Linked DNA regions of Homo sapiens: region 2 is linked to region 1. The links come from fine-mapping of genetic effects on gene expression. Tissue or cell type: left ventricle. Region 1 holds a variant in brackets; the other region holds the start of a gene. All regions are shown on one strand. Distances are from middle to middle.

Region 1 (4,249 bases):
CACAATTTCATTTTTAAGGATGTAAAATATTTAATAGAGGAGAAGAATCCTTTCTTTCAGTCTAAAGTGTTCCCCAGTGAAATTTGAATTTTACTGTTTCCTCCTCCCACAGAATTGAATAAAACAACTGCCTGACTAAAGAGGAGGTATCTTATGGTTTAACTGATTAAAGCTCCACTACCAAAATAGGGGGAAAAAACAATCTCTAGAAACAAGTTTCAAATTAAAATAGGTGTTTTGGACTTTTTTATTCCTCAGTTTTTTTCAGCCATATCATAAATGTTTAGATTGACAAATATGATCCAAGTAAAATCATCACATAATGATCCCCTTAAAACAAATGTCATTTTGTACAGTTAATTTTTTATTATTCTTTGGCACCTGCTAAGCTTCTTTCAAATGAAAAACTATACTCTTGCTGGCACGTTACTGGTGTAATGTCCCGAAATATGTTAATATTATTCATGATTTTGTTCTTAAGTACATTTTAACTGAATTATCTTGAGTTAGGATATAAACAAAATGACTATGACAAATAAATGTTTGAAAAAAGAAATTGATGTAATTTCTTTAATGTTTATTCTTCTATTACAAAGTTTGAGGAAATATAAGAATCACATTTTCATCATTTCTTTTCGATACTATTTATTTTTTATCTGAGACCATTTAGTTTAACCATCTGCCTAAATCAAAATGTACAGGATAGGTCATTAGGTCTACTCGTTGTTCCATTAATCATCATTTTAAAACAGCTTCTGCCGTGCTTGGGAAAGGCTGACTTGTGTTAAGTAATATACGCCCTCTAGTGGATGAAGATGGAGAAGAAAGTATTTGAGTTTTTCACTTAGGGCTAGTTATGAGTTCAATTTCTGAGCACTAATTCTGTTTTCTAGCTTGGATTTCCCCAAAAATGTAACACTATGAGTCAAGTCATGGTGGCTCATGCCTATAATCTCAGTACTTTGGAAGGCTGAGGCAGGAGAGTCGCTTGAGGTTAGGAGTTCCAGACCAGCCTGGGCAACATAGTGAGACCCGATCCATACCAAAAATTAAAAAATTAGCCAGGTGTGGTGGCACATGCCAGTAGTCCCAGCTACTTGGGAGGCTGAGACGAGAGGATTGCTTGAGCTCAGAAGGTTGAGGCTGCAGTGAGCCATGATCCCATCACCCACTACACTCCAGCCTGGGCTACAGAGTGAGACCACAATCTCGAAGAAGAAGAAGGAGGAGAAGAAGAAGAAACATTTTGTTATGTTAAATTTACAAAGGCTCCATCAAGTAGTGTATGAATTTTCCTTGTGGTTTAATTTCATCTCCGTTATTGTCTTTTTGTGCCATCATGGTTCTCTTCATCTTTAAAGTCAGCCAACAAATATTTATTGGATGCCTGCCATGTGCCAGGCATAGCTCTATGCACTTGGGATGTAGCAGTGAGTGAACAAAACAATTTGAAATCCTGTAATTGTAAAATTTAAAACAATATCAGATAATGATCATTGTGTGGTTCCTACATACCAGACCACATAGTTATTTGCAATTATTATTGAATCGAATGCCCAAGAACCCTGTTTAAAAACTGAGGAGCTTAGGCTGGACACGACAGCTCACGCCTGTAATCCCCGCATTTGGAGAGGCTGAGACAGGCAGATCATCTGAGGTCAGGAGTTCGAGACCAGCCTGGCTAACATGGCGAAACCCTGTCTCTACTAAAATACAAAAATTTGCCGGG[C/T]GTGGTGGCGGGTGCCTGTAATCCTGGCTACTAGGGAGGCTGAGGTGGGAGAATCACTTGAACTTGGGAGACAGAGGTTGCAGTGAGCCAAGATTGTGTCATTGCACTCCAGCCTGGGCCACAGGAGCAAAACTCTGTCTCAGGAAAAAAAAAAAAGAAGAAGAAGAAGAGGAAAGAGAAGAGAGAAGAAGAGGGAGAGGAAGGAGAAGGAGAAGAAGAAGAAGAAGACAACAACTCAGGTGCTAAGACACTTGCCAAAGATCACACAGAAAATCCGAAACTTGTGGCCTTGTTTTGAATTTTATTACGGTATTTAAAAACTTTTCCCCTGCAGCTAAAGTGTATGCTCCATGAGGGCAGGGACGGTATCTACTTGTTCATCACCATAACCCTGGGACCTGAAACCTGCCACTGGGTTCTCCAGAAATATCTGGTTAAATGACTTAAGGATAATGAAATAAATGAGCAGAGAGCTGAACTCTGGACTAATTGACACCAAAGCCCTTCTCACCAATGTCTCTACTGCCTGCATGAGTGTCCAGAAAACAGGAAGCAACCCCTTACTGGATGGCTCAATTGAATTATTTCAGAGCTATATGTCGGTTCCACTTTTTTAAAGAGTAGGAAAAGAAAATGAGTCTAAAATGAGCAAGATCTGATTATTTAGAAGATTTAAAAATCTTTGGCCGGCACAGTGGCTCATGCCTATAATCCCAGTACTTTGGGAGGCCGAGGTGGGCGGATCACCTGAGGTCAGGAGTTGGAGACCAGCCTGACCAACATGGAGAAACTCCATCTCTATTAAAAATACAAAATTAGCTGGGCATGGGGGTGCATGCCTGTAATCCCAGGTACTCGGGAGGCTGAGGCAGGAGAATCGCTTGAACCCAGGAGGCAGAGATTGCGGTGAGCCGAGATCACGCCATTGCACTCCAGCCTGGGCAACAAGAGCAAAACTCCATCCACCTCAAAAAAAAAAAAAAAAACAAAAAAAAATCTTTAAGCAGAATCTCCTTTGCCAATTCTCCTGAGTTTTACCACTAGAGAAAACAGGGAGAAGCCAAAGTGCCTTCACCCATGAAGGAATGTATTCCCCTTAAAGGGCCATTCATGCTCTTGGGCTGGAGAGTGGAGCTGGACAGAATTGAGCTTCCCTTTCACTTGCTGAGAAACCTGCTGTGAGTAGCCTCTCATGCCAGTATAAATGGGTTCATTTCCATGGTAATATTTTGTTATGTATTTTATAGTAGTTATTTCCTTGATCATTATATGCTCTATACCATTATTTGCCACTAACCTGGTGACTTAAGAGTACGATAGCTGTCGTTCAGATTTATTAACCTTTCTTCGTATGTTTGAAAGTCATTATGAGTGTACTGGCTTAAGCTAATAGCAGATTAGTAAATATTGAAAGAGTCATCTTGCCATTTGAAGTGTTTTCTGGCTAGAATAAATGTTTGTTCAGGTTGTAGCCCTGCCCAGGTAATCACCAGGTAAAAATACAGGATCAACTTCCAGTGCTGGAACAAGCAGGATAAATTACTAGGTGCAGGAATGGGTTTTATGGTGGCTCTCTCTTAACCTATTATTTAGGTTTATATTTTAAAGGGGAATTATCTATGCTTGCTCCTATTACACTGGACAGAGTAAAACAAACCAAAAGAAGGAAACAGAACAAAGGTTACTTCAGGACAATAGTTATAAAAATAAAACCAAACAGGGTGATCCCAAATATCACAAATCGGGAGGCCTAGCCTGTCATCCAAACTTTATTACAATCACAGGGGTGGTTCTCCTCTCCTTGTTAAGTCTTTTCTGTATGACGAGTTTTGAAAGATAAATTTGCCAATTGATTCCTTGCAGTTCTTCCTTCGTGTCACCTGATTGTTTTCTCCATAGTCAAATTGTGCTCTTAATTGATAACCAACATCTTAGGTCAAGATATCAGTTCCTGGTGGGTTTAAATGCTTTCAGTCACTTTTATTTTTTATTTTTTATTTTTTTATGATGGAGTCTCTGTTGCCCAGGCTGGAATGCAGTGGCTCTATCTCGGCTCACTGCAAGCTCCACCTCCCAGTTCAAGCAATTATCCTGCCTCAGCCTCCTGAGTAGCTGGGATTACGGGCACCTGCCACCATGGTCAGCTAATTTTTTGTATTTTTAGTAGAGATGTGGTTTCACCATGTTGGCCAGGTCTCGAACTCCTGACCTCAAGTGATCTGTCCACCTCGGCCTCCCAAAGTGCTGGGATTATAGGCATGAGCCACCGTGCCCAGCCTCAGTCACTATTTTTATTTTATACATAACAACCTCCCTGACAAGCCTTTCTTCAAGAGGATGGATCCACACTAAGATCCTCTAAGGAGGATCTTTTACCTCTGATCTCATCCTTTTGCACTTCTGCAATCACCTCTTTTCCCATAGTGTCAACTATCACCTCAGCAGAAAAATCTCAGTCTTCCTAATTCTCCCTTCCCAAACTCAGGTGGCGATTCCAGCTGCCCTCTGGGCATCTCTACT
Region 2 (4,249 bases), 79 kb after region 1:
CTCAAGAGGCTGAGGCAGGAGAATCGCTTGAATTCAGGAGGCAGAGGTTGCAGAGGGCCGAGATCGCGCCACTGCACTCCATCCTGGGTGACAGAGCCAGACTCCATCTCAAAACAAAACAAACAAACAAACAAAAAAGGACAATACTGCAGTGACTGGGTGGAGATGCTTAATATTTTGCGACTTTTAATAATCAAGTATTAGATGCAAACCAGAAGGACCCAGGGGAAAGAGTTAAGTCAAGACAACTTCCCAGCACCTGATACCATCCTTCAATCCCTCCAGAAGGTAGATAAAATTTAGGATATACACTTGACGTAGTCTAAATCTTAACTGCTTTCCACTAGTCCCAAACAGATAGGCCTGGCCTCATCTCAGTTATTGACACTAAAGACATATATAGCTGGAAAGGAAAATGAACTATGTCATGAATGGCATATAATGTGTATTGGACTCACTAGCGAAGGATCAGGCATAGACACACATAATTCACAGTCAAAACCCAAATGGCTAAGCTTCCACATGAAAAAAGTCACACTGGCTTGTTATTACAGCCAGTGGTGAAAGATAGATAGATAGATGGCTATAAGTAACAAGAACCTAGAAGGGATTGTGTCACCTGTCCTATCACGCATTCCCACAGTAGAAATCACTAATCAATTATGGAACTCCACTGAAACTGGGCTAAATCTCAAGAGTCTTTGACACGGTAATTCAGGCACTTGATACCAATGACTGAAGTTCCAAGGGGAGATTAAACCTGTTTGCTACCTTATGTAGTGTGTGAAACCTAGTAACAACGACTGAGCAGTCTGTGTGGTTCTAATGCTTCAAAAACTTGCCTTTTCAAGGTGTATGGCATCCTGAAGCCAATGCCACATCACCTTGGACTAGGTATATCCCAAGGTCTCTCAGTGCAATGGGGAGAGCCCATTGCCATATTATTAACTAATTCTCTCTAAAATGCAGCTTACTAGTTGGAAAGGTCTTCCGTGTAAAAGACTGTAGTTTACACCCTTATGTGGTCCAAGCACCAAAATCAATAATCTGTAAATGTTTGTTCAAACAATAATAATGAGAATCAGGGAATGACAGAGCTGGGAGAGCATGATGACCATTTGGTGGAATAATCTGAGGATCAGGATGCCTTTGAGAATTTGATAAAAGCTAAGGAAGGGCCTTCTTCCGGACACACATCCACGTGAACACTAGTTGGGCGAGTTGACCTCCCCCAACTCCTCCTGACAGCTACGTAACAGATAAGTAAAAAAAAGTATGGGAAAGTAGCTGGCCGTAGGTCGCAGTGGCAAAGCCAAAAGACAACAGTCCCAGACCAAACCTACGCGTCCCCATACCCGCGCTCAGCAGAGTAAGTGTGAGCCACGCGATCCAGCAGTGGGCTTCGTGCACTGCTCGGACACGGCACACTCGAACACCAAAATGAACACTGCAAGGTACGTTTTCAGGAATTGCATGGCTTCCTTCCAAGGAGACCACACGTCATTTCAAAAGCTCACGGCCAAAAAAAACCCGCACCAACCGATCTCACTGCAGCCCCAGAAGAAACGCTCCCACCCCGCTCCTCAGGCCCTGCCTCAGGAATTGCATGGCTTCCTTCCAAGGAGACCACACGTCATTTCAAAAGCTCACGGCCAAAAAAAACCCGCACCAACCGATCTCACTGCAGCCCCAGAAGAAACGCTCCCACCCCGCTCCTCAGGCCCTGCCCAGCCTTGTGGCCTCCCTTCACCCGCCGCCACCATCCGCGGAGCCAAAGCGGAGCCCTGGTCTCCCGCGGCCGGGGATGGGGGCTGGAAGCTCCCGGATCACCTCGCTGCCGGCAATGCTCCACCTGGCAGTGCTGCCCGATGTCCAACTCCGCCATCTCTCCGGCGCCGTAAGGGGCGGGGCAAAGCCTGAGGGGCGGGGCAATGAGCGCGCGCGGCGCCTGACGGGAGAGTGGCGGACCCAGAGGCGGAGTCTACAGGTGGGGGCGGGGCCTGGAAACCAGCTGTGCGATTTGTCCTAGGTGCATTCGCCGTGACCAGGAAAGGCCACTGTTCTGTGAGTGTTCTTCTCGGAGCGGAAGGCCTCTCGCCTAGTCCTTAAAGAAATACCCACCTGCAGCCGGGCGCGGTGGCTCACGCCTGTAATCCCAGCACCCTGTGAGGCCGAGGCGGGCGGATCACCTGAGGTCAGGAGTTCGAGACCAGCCTGACCAGTGTGGCGAAACCCCCGTCTCTACTAAAAATGCAAAATTAGCCGGGCGTGGTGGCACATGCCTGTAATCCCAGCTACTCGGGAGACTGAGGCAGGAGAAACGCTTGAACCTGGGAGGCGGAGGTCGCAGTGAGCCAAAATTGGACCATTGCACTCCAGCCTGGGCAAGAAGAGCGAAACTCCGTCTCAAAACATAAAAAAAGAAAATGAAAAAGAAATGCCCACCTGCCTTTCTGGACGACTGCTTACCGCGGTTCCCTGCATACGGCCACGAAAATCAGCAACGGCTTCACATTTATTTTTTTAAAAGTTAGTAGAACTCCAGGAACCAGAACAGTGCCGGGCACACAGTGTTGCAATAATCAAGCAAAAGAGACAGACATGGGTTATTCAATTCCTGAGCCATCCCTCAACCAGTGTTACTTGATTATGTAGTGTAACATACATGCCCCTTGCAAAACAGTCATCAGGCTTTTTAAAAAGTTAATATTTCTTTATCTTTGTCCTTTTTTTTTTTTTTTTTAAATTCTGGTAGGGGGAAAAAAAAAGTCTTAACTCCTGAGCCCCTGAATGTGTACTGAACCTTACAGAGTTCCTCAGAGAACCCAGACTCATTTAGCACAACTACCTGAAGAAAGCTTATGGGATTCCACTGGGATGTAGGGGAGTATCAGGTGCCTGGTGAGCCACTGCAAAGGTACTGAAGGAGAGGTACTTCTGGGTGGGGTACATATGAATGCCATTCCACCAACGTGATGCCAGGCACCATTCAGCGTGGATGGGTGACAATCACCTGCACTCCTGACAGGAACTAGAAAAGTATTCGATGCCTCCTATATACCTTTGGAGATTCCCAATCAATAATCACTGAGGAAGGGCGAAGGGTGACACTAGGAAAGGGGAATCATTTCTTCTGCATTTGCTCTTGAGCCAATCTATTTAAGATTTCCGTCTCAGAATTGCTTGAGTCTCTGGAGAAACTTTATAAGATGTCATCTGGCTATCCCAGCCTCCATAGCTTTTCTTTTATTAAGATGAGAAAACCAGTTCATAGACATTAAATGATTGGCTCACATTAGTGGATGAACCAGGACAAAAAATGCAAGTACTAAAGACTTTTGGTATTCTTGGATCTAGGGATCAGTGGCTTACCTAGATTTTATGTTTAAGTTGATCAGATCAATCAATAACAGGTTTCCTGGAATTTTACTAGGTGTTTGGAATGTTCTAGATAGGTGGCAAATATATGTTTTATCAGTCCAATTATTATGGATATGTTTTTATTTTTTCAGTTATTGGACACCTCATAGAACATCAGATGATTAGCGTAGCCAAGATTGCAGTTGCTACCTCTGCTTTCTCTATTTAGTCTCCTTTGCTGATTTCTTCTCTAGGTGCTGCTTAAACACATCTATTTCACTATGTTTATGTCTTTGGTCCATTTATCAATTTACATCCTCATGCAAGTGAAATTCCCATGGCTTCCATATTAAAGACTCTCATACCCATATTCTCAGCCCTGAGAACACTTTACCAAACATGAAGTAACTATTTCCAACTGTCTGATAGATCTATCTATGTGCATTCATTTGTCATGGTGTCTTAAGCCCAAAATGGGATAATTTCCTACCATATCATCCCCTTTCTAACAAAGGCAGCCTGCCACATACTTGTTTCATTCAACCAATCAATCAATCTTGGATTTATTCTCCACCTCTCCTTTCTTACTTCTCATGGAAGTAGCCATTAAACACTGTCAATTCTCCCTCAGAAATGTCTCTTAGGCCGGGCGCGGTGGCTCACACCTGTAATCCCAGCACTTTGGGAGGCTGAGGCGGGTGGATCACCTGAGGTCGGGAGTTCAAGATCAGCCCGACCAACATTGAGAAACCCCGTTTCTACTAAAAATACAAAAATTAGCCAGGCGTGGTGGCACGTGCTTGAATTCCCAGCTACTCAGGAGGCAGAGGCACGAGAATCGCTTGAACCTGAGGAGGTTGCAATGAGCCGAGGTAAAGCCATTGCACTC

Alleles and levels. Positions count from the first base shown, and alleles are read on the strand shown. Sizes are in standard deviations (SD) of each study's normalised expression.
For the expression in left ventricle of the gene that starts at base 1,904 in region 2, C is the high allele of the variant in region 1 and T is the other (moderate effect, 0.55 SD a copy in GTEx).

The links. PIP is the estimated chance that this variant, and not a neighbour inherited with it, causes the effect.
Region 2: ZFAND1 starts here. The variant in region 1 is the best candidate, but not a certain one, in a credible set for the expression of ZFAND1 in left ventricle (GTEx, PIP 0.74).

Annotation. Positions count from the first base shown.
Region 1 is chr8:81,640,857-81,645,105 of GRCh38, forward strand. No RefSeq gene overlaps it. Among named protein-coding and RNA genes, the nearest start is that of IMPA1, 43 kb to the right of the region's middle. The variant C/T (reference allele first, on the strand shown) is at 1,730.
Region 2 is chr8:81,719,397-81,723,645 of GRCh38, forward strand. ZFAND1 (zinc finger AN1-type containing 1) reads right to left here and starts at 1,904. Exons shown (of 8, transcript NM_024699.3): 1 at 1,831-1,904. The coding sequence starts at 1,885. RefSeq lists enhancers at 938-1,882, 1,810-1,859 and silencers at 1,400-1,539, 1,570-1,639.